Linked DNA regions of Homo sapiens: all the other regions are linked to region 3. The links come from fine-mapping of genetic effects on gene expression. A gene starts in region 3. Each other region holds a variant in brackets. All regions are shown on one strand. Distances are from middle to middle. Region 1 overlaps LOC105376289 (a long non-coding RNA gene). Region 2 overlaps MIGA2 (mitoguardin 2). Region 3 holds the start of CRAT (carnitine O-acetyltransferase).

What was found. PIP is the estimated chance that this variant, and not a neighbour inherited with it, causes the effect.
Region 1: its variant is fine-mapped to the expression of CRAT in whole blood (TOPMed, PIP above 0.99).
Region 2: its variant is fine-mapped to the expression of CRAT in whole blood (INTERVAL, PIP 0.97).

What each region holds. Positions count from the first base shown.
Region 1 is chr9:129,187,059-129,189,900 of GRCh38, reverse strand. All of the region lies in intron 1 of LOC105376289 (a long non-coding RNA gene), which reads right to left. Among named protein-coding and RNA genes, the nearest start is that of IER5L, 10 kb to the right of the region's middle. The variant C/A (reference allele first, on the strand shown) is at 1,426.
Region 2 is chr9:129,067,681-129,070,522 of GRCh38, reverse strand. It overlaps MIGA2 (mitoguardin 2), which reads right to left. Exons shown (of 16, transcript NM_001329990.2): 12 at 2,652-2,750; 13 at 2,191-2,325; 14 at 1,394-1,447; 15 at 558-674; 16 at 1-276. The coding sequence ends at 70. Among named protein-coding and RNA genes, the nearest start is that of DOLPP1, 12 kb to the left of the region's middle. RefSeq lists an enhancer at 627-766. The variant G/A (reference allele first, on the strand shown) is at 1,112.
Region 3 is chr9:129,109,327-129,111,826 of GRCh38, reverse strand. CRAT (carnitine O-acetyltransferase) reads left to right here and starts at 1,034. Exons shown (of 14, transcript NM_000755.5): 1 at 1,034-1,344. The coding sequence starts at 1,318. It overlaps PTPA (protein phosphatase 2 phosphatase activator), which reads right to left and starts at 412. Exons shown (of 10, transcript NM_178000.3): 1 at 196-412. The coding sequence starts at 226. RefSeq lists silencers at 99-148, 839-1,278 and enhancers at 1-216, 149-428.

The DNA of each region.
Region 1 (2,842 bases), 78 kb before region 3:
TTCATCAGAATCTGATTCCCTCTGGCCCAAAACTAACCTAGTGGGCATGGCGGGCATGCCCCGGGCATCCTCATCCCGAATCTTAAAGACAGAAGGGCTCAAAGAGACTCCCTTTCCAGGCTTGGTCTCAGGACCCTCCCCCTGTCAGTCCAGCCTCATTTTTAAGGCCCTGGGGAAGCCAGATGCAGGAGAGTAGAGCCATTAGCATTTGGGTTCTGGGAAATAAGAGACTGGGGTTCACACCCCAGCCCTATGACTTTCTGACGTTGTGAGTCTAAGAAGAGCAGGTGAGCTCTGTGGACCTCAGTTCCCTCTTTCGAAATGGGGCTGGCGACTGCATCCCAGCGTGGGCATCTGCACGCAGCAGTGGAGGGTGATTCAGAGTATGGGCTCCGGAATAGGGCAGCACTGGTTGGAACCGCAGCTCTTCCAATGAGGGATTCCAGCAAAGCCCTGGTCTCTTAAAATCCCCCGTAAAATGGAGATGATACAAGCGCTTGGTGGGGTGTTTTTAAAAATCTTGTGTCATGAACAAGCACACTGCCAAATATATACTCAGTTCGAAAGAAACAATGGTTCCCTTCCCCTCTCCGTGACCCTAATAGGCCGCCCTAACCAACACAGGGACAGAACTAACTAGTCACTAAGTGTGAGATGATGGGGCATGCTGTATGTCATGCCTGCCTTGTAAATGTTCATTATCTCAGTGTTCACTTAGGCTATAAAAAAGTAAATGAACAGGCCGAGCGTGGTGGCTCACGCCTGTAATCCCAGCACTCTGGGAGGCCAAGACAGGAGGATCACTTGAGGTCAGGAGTTCCAGACCAGCCTGACCAACATGGTGAAACCTCGTTTCTACTAAAAATACAAAAATTAGCGGGGTGTGGTGGCACACGCCTGTAATCCCAGCTACTCGGGAGGCTGAGGCAGGAGAATCACTTGAATCCGGGAGGCAGAGGTTGCAGTGAGCTAAGATCACGCCACTGCACTCCAGCCTGGGCAACAAGAGCAAGACTCCATCAGATAGGTAGATAGATAGATAGATAGATGATAGATAGATAGATAGATAGATAGATAGATAGATAGATAGATAAACGTTAACTAGTCCAATGAGTATAATGGCCTGACTTTGCCAAATCGAAGGTGTTATCAATGGTAAGACACTTCTCAATTTTAGAGATGTTAGATATGGGAGGAAGGTGGTGACTTAGAATAGATTAAATTCAGTGTATGATATTACGGTGAGACCATCAAGCTGTGGTTTCATAGAATTAAATATTATCGATTTCATTAGACAATTAGAAAACCCCGTCTCTGTGGGTATATTGCAAGCCACTGTCCCTTCCCCTTCTCTTCTGTCTTGGAAAGGGCATCAGACATAGTAGATACTCAACAAATGTCCGCTGAAGGAGTGAATCGATCCAT[C/A]CCTCTAGTCATCAAAGAATCAGTGAATGAATCAACAGTGAATGGGGCCGGGTGCAGTGGCTCAAGCCTGTAATCCCAACACTTCGAGAGGCCGAGGCGGGTGGATCGCCTGAGGTCAGGACTTCAAGACCAGCCTGGCCAATATGGTGAAACCCTGTCTCTACTGAAAATACAAAAATTAGCCGGCATGTTGTTGGGCGCCTGTAATCCCAGCTACCTGGGAGGCTGAGGCAGGAGAATCACTTGAGCTTGGGAGGCAGAGGTTGCAGTGTGCCGAGATCGCACCACTGCATTTTAGCCTGAGCGACAGAGCAAGACTCTGTCTCAAGAAAAATAAAAGAATGATGCTTGTTGATTAAACAGCAGTGCTCAACCTTAGCAGAAGGACAAGACTGATTAAAACTTTTTTTAAAAGAGGGCCTTCAGCCAGGCATGGTGGCTCATGCCTGTAATCCCAGCACTTTGGGAGGCTAAGGAGGCAGATCATTTGAGCCCAGGGGTTTGAGACCAGCCTGGGCAACATGGCAAAACCCCATCTCTACCAAAAAAAAAAAAAATACAACAATTAGCCAGGCATGCTGGCGTGCACCTTTATTCCGAGCTACTCAGGAGACTGAGGCGGGAGAATCTCTTGAGCCCGGGAGTCGGAGGTTGCAGTGAACCACGATCACACCACTGCACTCCAGCCTGGGCAACAGAGCAAGACCCTGTCTCAAAAAAAAAAGGGCTTCATGCTAGACTGCTGTGATGTGAAAATATATTTTTGTACACATCTGATGCATGAGAAGCTAAACAGTTGTTCACCAAAATCCTTTCAAGAAGGCAATGTTTGTTCATTGAGAAAATACTAATTGGGCATCTATTATTTGTCAAGGACTAAGGAAGCTGCCAAGCAGAGACTTATGGACCTGTCCTCAGGGAATTTACAGTCTAATGGGGGAGATGGACAGACAGGTTAAAAAATAAACATTTTCTTAGTAGCTGTGTGATGAGAGGTGCCCACTATGCCCTCACCCCTACCACCAGCTGAGAGCATCATAGCTTATTTTTGTGATCAATGAACCAGTCAAAGATCCACTTTTTCATTGTTCAAGGCCCTGTGTCAGTGGCAACGCTGTGTATTCACTGAACCAGGTCATTTGGATGTGGAGAAATAGGGCTGCCAGTCCTGGAGCACACCTGAGGACTAAATTTCCCAGGCTCCCTTGCAGCTAGCTGATGACACATGACCCAGCTCTGGCCAATGGAAGGGAGGGATGCCAATTAGGGCTTCCCCATATAACATCCTTCAAAAAGAGAAAGAAGGAGACTTTCATTGGATCAAGCCTCAAAGATGCAGGAAGTTTGTTTTTGTTTTACAGACAGGGGTCTTACTATGTTGCCCAGGCTGGTCTTGAACTCCTGCCCTCAAAAGATT
Region 2 (2,842 bases), 41 kb after region 3:
GCTGTCAGATACCAACCCAGGGAAGGGAGGAGGAGCCTTCTCTCTGCCACCCCCCAGCCCGTGCCGCCTCTACTGCAGCTCCCCCAGGGGCCCATTCTCTCGGGGCAGCGCCCCATTCACGCCTGCGCTGCTGGCCGCGGGCACCCCCAGGTACCCCAGCAATATCTCGCTGCGGCGCCGGGACAGCTGCAGGATGTCGTCTGCCAGCGCGGGCAGTGACGTGTAGCGCACATTGTCCAGGTCGAACATGTCCCTCAGGTACTGCACAATCTGGTGCTGGGGGAGCAGGGCTGGTGTCAGGCCTGGCCCAGCCACTGCCCACCATGATGCCCCCCAGGTTACCTGAAGTCCCCTTGTCCACCACCAGAGCCCCAGCCGGTCCTTTCCATCCCCAGGCTCCTCCCTCCCACTGCTTCCTCTGGACCCATGTGGGTCTGGCTCTGCCCTCTCTCTGGGAGCAGGCCCAGGCCCAGGCCCTCATCCCATTCCTGGCACCTCCCAGGGCGCCTGTGCTCAGGGCAAGGGTCAGGAAAGAACGAGAACTGCTCTCTGTTTACCTTGAAGAAAGCACAGACTTCAGCAAGCTGAGGCTTGGGTCCAAGGAAGCCGAAGGCTAGGACAGGGCTCACATGCTCCGATACGGAGTAGAAATGGGAGATGAAGCCATCAGGCACCTGCGGTGGGCACAAGGCTGAGGGGCCAGGCGGGGCCCAGGTAGGATGAGGGCACCAGGCCCAGGTGTCGCATAAAGGGCTGGGCTTTAGAGGTCGCCCCAGCTCATGTACTTTCCTGCTAGATGACCCTGGGCAGTGACTCAAGCTTTCGAAGCCCATTTTAACTTCTGCAGACAGGGTAACCATGGGCCGCTGTGAGTACTGCAAGAGGTGGGGCCATAGTGGCTCCGCGGGAAGTGCCTGGAGCACGTGGCCACGGCAGCTGGTATCAGCTAGGCAACAGAGCCTGGCCCGCAGAGGGGAACGACAAACCACAGGCCAGATAGCACAGCCAGTCGCTGCCTGGGAGCGGAGATTACAGGGGCCTGACTGGGGCGGGGAAAGGGCAGGAGGGACAGGGCTCTGCTTGCTCCTGGGTATCCTGCCCCCACCGAGAC[G/A]CCTGCACCAGGCCAGCTGCCAGCCCTGTGGCCACTACCCTAGGGTATCCGTTCCCCTCCCCAGTGGCCTGCTCTGTGCTGGGCCTGGGGAGGAGAGGAAGTGGGTCTACACGAGCCTCCAGGGAGCTCCTGGCACAGGGAGAGGTAACGGCGGAACAAGGGGGCCAGGACTGTGAGCGGTGAAGGCCAAGTGGCCCAGCGAGCCACCCTGCACCCGCTCCGCTCCCCACCACGCTGCCTCAGAGCCCAGCTCGTGCTCCCCCGGGCCTGCCAGTCACTCACCATCAGCAGCCTCCTCTTGGCTTTCAGGACCGACCAGCAAGCAGTGGCCAAGGCCTACATCAAAAATAGGATGTCCCCCGGGTGTCAAAATGGGCCTAGCCCACAGCCCCTCGCCCTCTGCCAGCCCAGCACCAAGCCCTTAAACCCAGCTCACCCCACTCCAAGCAGGAAGATGGGGCCAGGTGCCTAAGCTCTGCTGCTTCCTCCTCTGATTTTGGACTCAGACATACCTAAACTTGAATCTTGACTCTAATCTTACTGCTGGATCTTCTCTGAGCCTCGGTCTCCTCTTCTGTAAAGGGGCACAACACAGCACTCCCACCTCCTTTGGTGGTTGTGGGAGCAATGGTTCCCGCCTGTAAACCACCTCGCAGAAGCCTGGGCCCAGGCAGCACAGCCCGGCTGCTGGAGCGTTACTGCTTGCCTTCCTGGGGGTCCTGTGCTGGGTTGTCTCTCACTCTGTGCCTTTTTTTCCTTTTGGTTTTGCTTTCCCCTCTTTTAACTTGATTTAACAGGATGCATTAAAATGGAATCGAATTCATACCAGCACAAAAGTAAAACCACACAATAGGAAGAAAGCGCACACCATGTTGGTTCTAAACTGGGGCACCAGGCAGCAACGGGGCACCCTGGAGGCTTCTCCAGGGCAGACTCTGGTCTCCCAGGCCTGGCAGCCGCGGATCTAGGGGGTGGGGGCCCAGCCCTGGTGCCAGTGCTAGGGACAGAGGGGACGGAGCCAGGCAACCACACGGGCTGATGTGAGCAAGTGTGGGTCTGAGAGCAGGGCAGTGACCCACCGTCTCCTTGAAGCTGTCTGACAGCCAGCGGTTCCGCAGGACGGCGAGCACCGAGGCCGGAGGGTTCTCCAGGTCCTCGAAGGCGTCCATGAGGATGAAGTCCAGCACGATGTCGAAGAAGCTCATGCATACCACCTACAGAGGGTGCCCCCGGGAGGCTCATGCATGGGGGCACTGCCGGAGCCTCGGGGCCACTTTCCAGATGGGGAGACTGAAGCTGGGGTCCAGGGCATGAGCACACGTGGGGGGGACACGTCTTTCCCGCTCTGCTGTGCAACGGGTGTAGCTGAGGCCATTCCTCCCTCTGCCTTGGCCTGGGGCAGGGCAGGAACCGGGGACTATGAGCAGTGATGGAACCGTCTCAGCCGCTTGGAACTGAGCTAGAGCTCGGCACAAGAACCCCCTTGCTGCTCAGATGCAGGGGAGCCCGGGATGTCGGGGTTCAGCACAAAGCAACTCACCCCTCGGCCCTCCAGCTCCAGCCGTGTTGTGGCCCAGGTCTCGGGCCGCAGGGCATAGCTCAGCATCTCCTCGTAGCTCTCCAGGAAGCCTTTGGGGCTCTGTGGAGAGAAGCACGGCCCATCCTGGTCACTGGACAAGACCCACAGGGACAGGCTGGCCTGTGGATGGGGGACATGCCAAGGCACGGCTG
Region 3 (2,500 bases):
CCTGGTTCCCTCCCCAGCGGCGCCCCACCACCCACCTCTCCCCTAAGGCCATTCAACTCAGTCCCTCCTCGGGGCCCCTCAGCTTTTGCCCCTCCAGTTCCTCCGTGTCATGACTCTCGCCCTCCTGAGCCTCCCACACCTGGCACCGCCCCCACCCTACCCGACCCCGGCCCGGCCTGGCCCCGCCGGCCTTACCTGGCGGCGGCTGCCGCTCGCCCTCAGCCATCTTGCTCCGGCCAGGAGCCGACCCGGATGCTTGCAGTCCCCTCTCGCCTTTCACTCTTGCACCCACCCTTCCTCTCCCCGGCTCCACCAAAGGCTCCGAGCTTCCTGAAGACAAGTGAGCGCCGGCCGGCTATAACCGAAAACCGAGAGTTAAAGTCACCACAGCGAAGACGGCCGCCATGTCGGTGCGGGGCGCTCAGGGAGCAAGCCTATTAACGGCCGGCGCGCGGCGGACGCGCGGAACCGGGCGACGGCCATGTCAGTGCGGGGCGCGCGGGGCGCATGCGCGCCAACGGCCGCCAAGCGCTAGGACCGCTCACGGCCGCCCGAACGTCGGGCGCCGCGACTGCCACGATTGTGCGGGGCGTCAAGTTTGGGTTGTGCTCAGCCATGTTTTTCCGGGACAGTCTCCTGTCCCGGAGTACCACCTGTCATCTTTGTGGGTGGTACTGACCCTAACCCAAGGAATATTAGAGGACATTCCCCGGTCAACATGGTTGTGTTTTCCTATCACTCTAAGAGTTAGGCTCAAGGACACCAGACGGAGTTGGAAAGGTGCACACCACTACCTCCAACAGCTTAGAAGACATGTGGGGACAGGGGAGAGACAGCTGGACGGTGACCTCCTCCTTCCTCCTCCACAGGTCTCAATGACTCGCCCTCGGCCCTGCCCCTCTGTCCCCGCCCGCCGTGGTCCCGCCCCCGACTCGCAGCCAGCCTACTGCGACCCGCTACCGGGCGACGCCCCGCCCCTCCGTCCCCGCCCCTCCTGTCCCTCCTCAAGGAGACTCCGCCCCATCGATGCCCCGTCCCCGCCCCACAGCCAACCTCCCGGGCACCGTTGCCCGCCCGGGGCCCGCTACCGGCCCAGGCCCCGCCTCGCGAGTCCTCCTCCCCGGGTGCCTTCCCGCAGCCCGCTCGGCCCAGAGGGTGGGCGCGGGGCTGCCTCTACCGGCTGGCGGCTGTAACTCAGCGACCTTGGCCCGAAGGCTCTAGCAAGGACCCACCGACCCCAGCCGCGGCGGCGGCGGCGCGGACTTTGCCCGGTGTGTGGGGCGGAGCGGACTGCGTGTCCGCGGACGGGCAGCGAAGATGTTAGCCTTCGCTGCCAGGACCGTGGTGAGTGCGGCGGATCCCGGGCCTGAGGGCCCTGGACGGCCTGGGCGGGCCGTGCGGTTGCGTCCGGGAACGGAGACCGCGTCCTGCGGCCGCTGTTCGACCCGGCCTCCAGCTGATGGGGTGGGGTCAGGCGGGCGTCCCAGGTTTGGCAGAGCAGGAGATTGGGGCGCAAGGTCAGAAGCGGGATTAAACCCACGTCCTGGAGCATTCAGTTCCAACGACCCAGGAAAGACAAGGGGGACCCCGGCTTCAGTTAGCACCCCCACCCTTAGACCCAGAGACAGGCCGGTAGGGGAGAGAGACCAGGAGCATCCAGACCCTAGCTCACTCTCCCAGTTATTCTCCGATTGACACACCCGTCGCACGCTTAGGCCAGAGCCACTCCTCCGACCCTGTCCAGTTGGTCACACTCCTTTGGTTTATCAGACGGTCCCTGGGGAATTGTGTGTGGCCAGAGAAACACGCGGAGGCATCAAGCTAGAAAGGCCTCAGAACTGGCAGGTGGCAGCCCCATGGTCTCCCTCCCCTCCAGCCCCCTTCCCCACCCTGGCTGTATCCTTCCCTCCAGCCCCCTTCCCCACCCTGGCTATATCCTCCCCTCTAGCCCCCTTCCCCACCCTGGCTATATCTACCCCTCAGTCCTCCCCGGTGAGCAGCCCGGATGCTAGCCTAATTTCAGTCCCTTCCGTCCCTGATCCAAGCATATGTTGCTGGTGTCTCACTCTGTCTCAGACACACACTACGGGGCCAGAGGGCGGAGGGTGCATCCAGGCTCAGGCCTAGAGGCTCTTTTAGGTGTTGCAACACCCTGAGCCTCCACCGCACCCTTGTCACTGTCTCCCAAGCTGCATCCATCCCACAAACAGCCTCTAGATCATCCTCCAGGACCATCCGACTGGACTGGTTACCTTCCTGCAGGGAAACTGAGGCAAGGAGGGACTTGCCCAGAGTCCCCTGGACCTGCTCATTCAAATCCAGCCCAATCCCAGTGTCCTTTGGTTTATTTTTCATACCAAAAGTCCTCCGCTCTTGGACCCTAGCTGAATGAGCCACAGCTCAGGAAAAAATGAGTGTTCGTAGAGGGATGGCTCAGATGGGTCCCAGGAGTCCTGGAGAGAAACAGGAAATAGGCAGGGCTTCTGGCTGTCCCATCCAC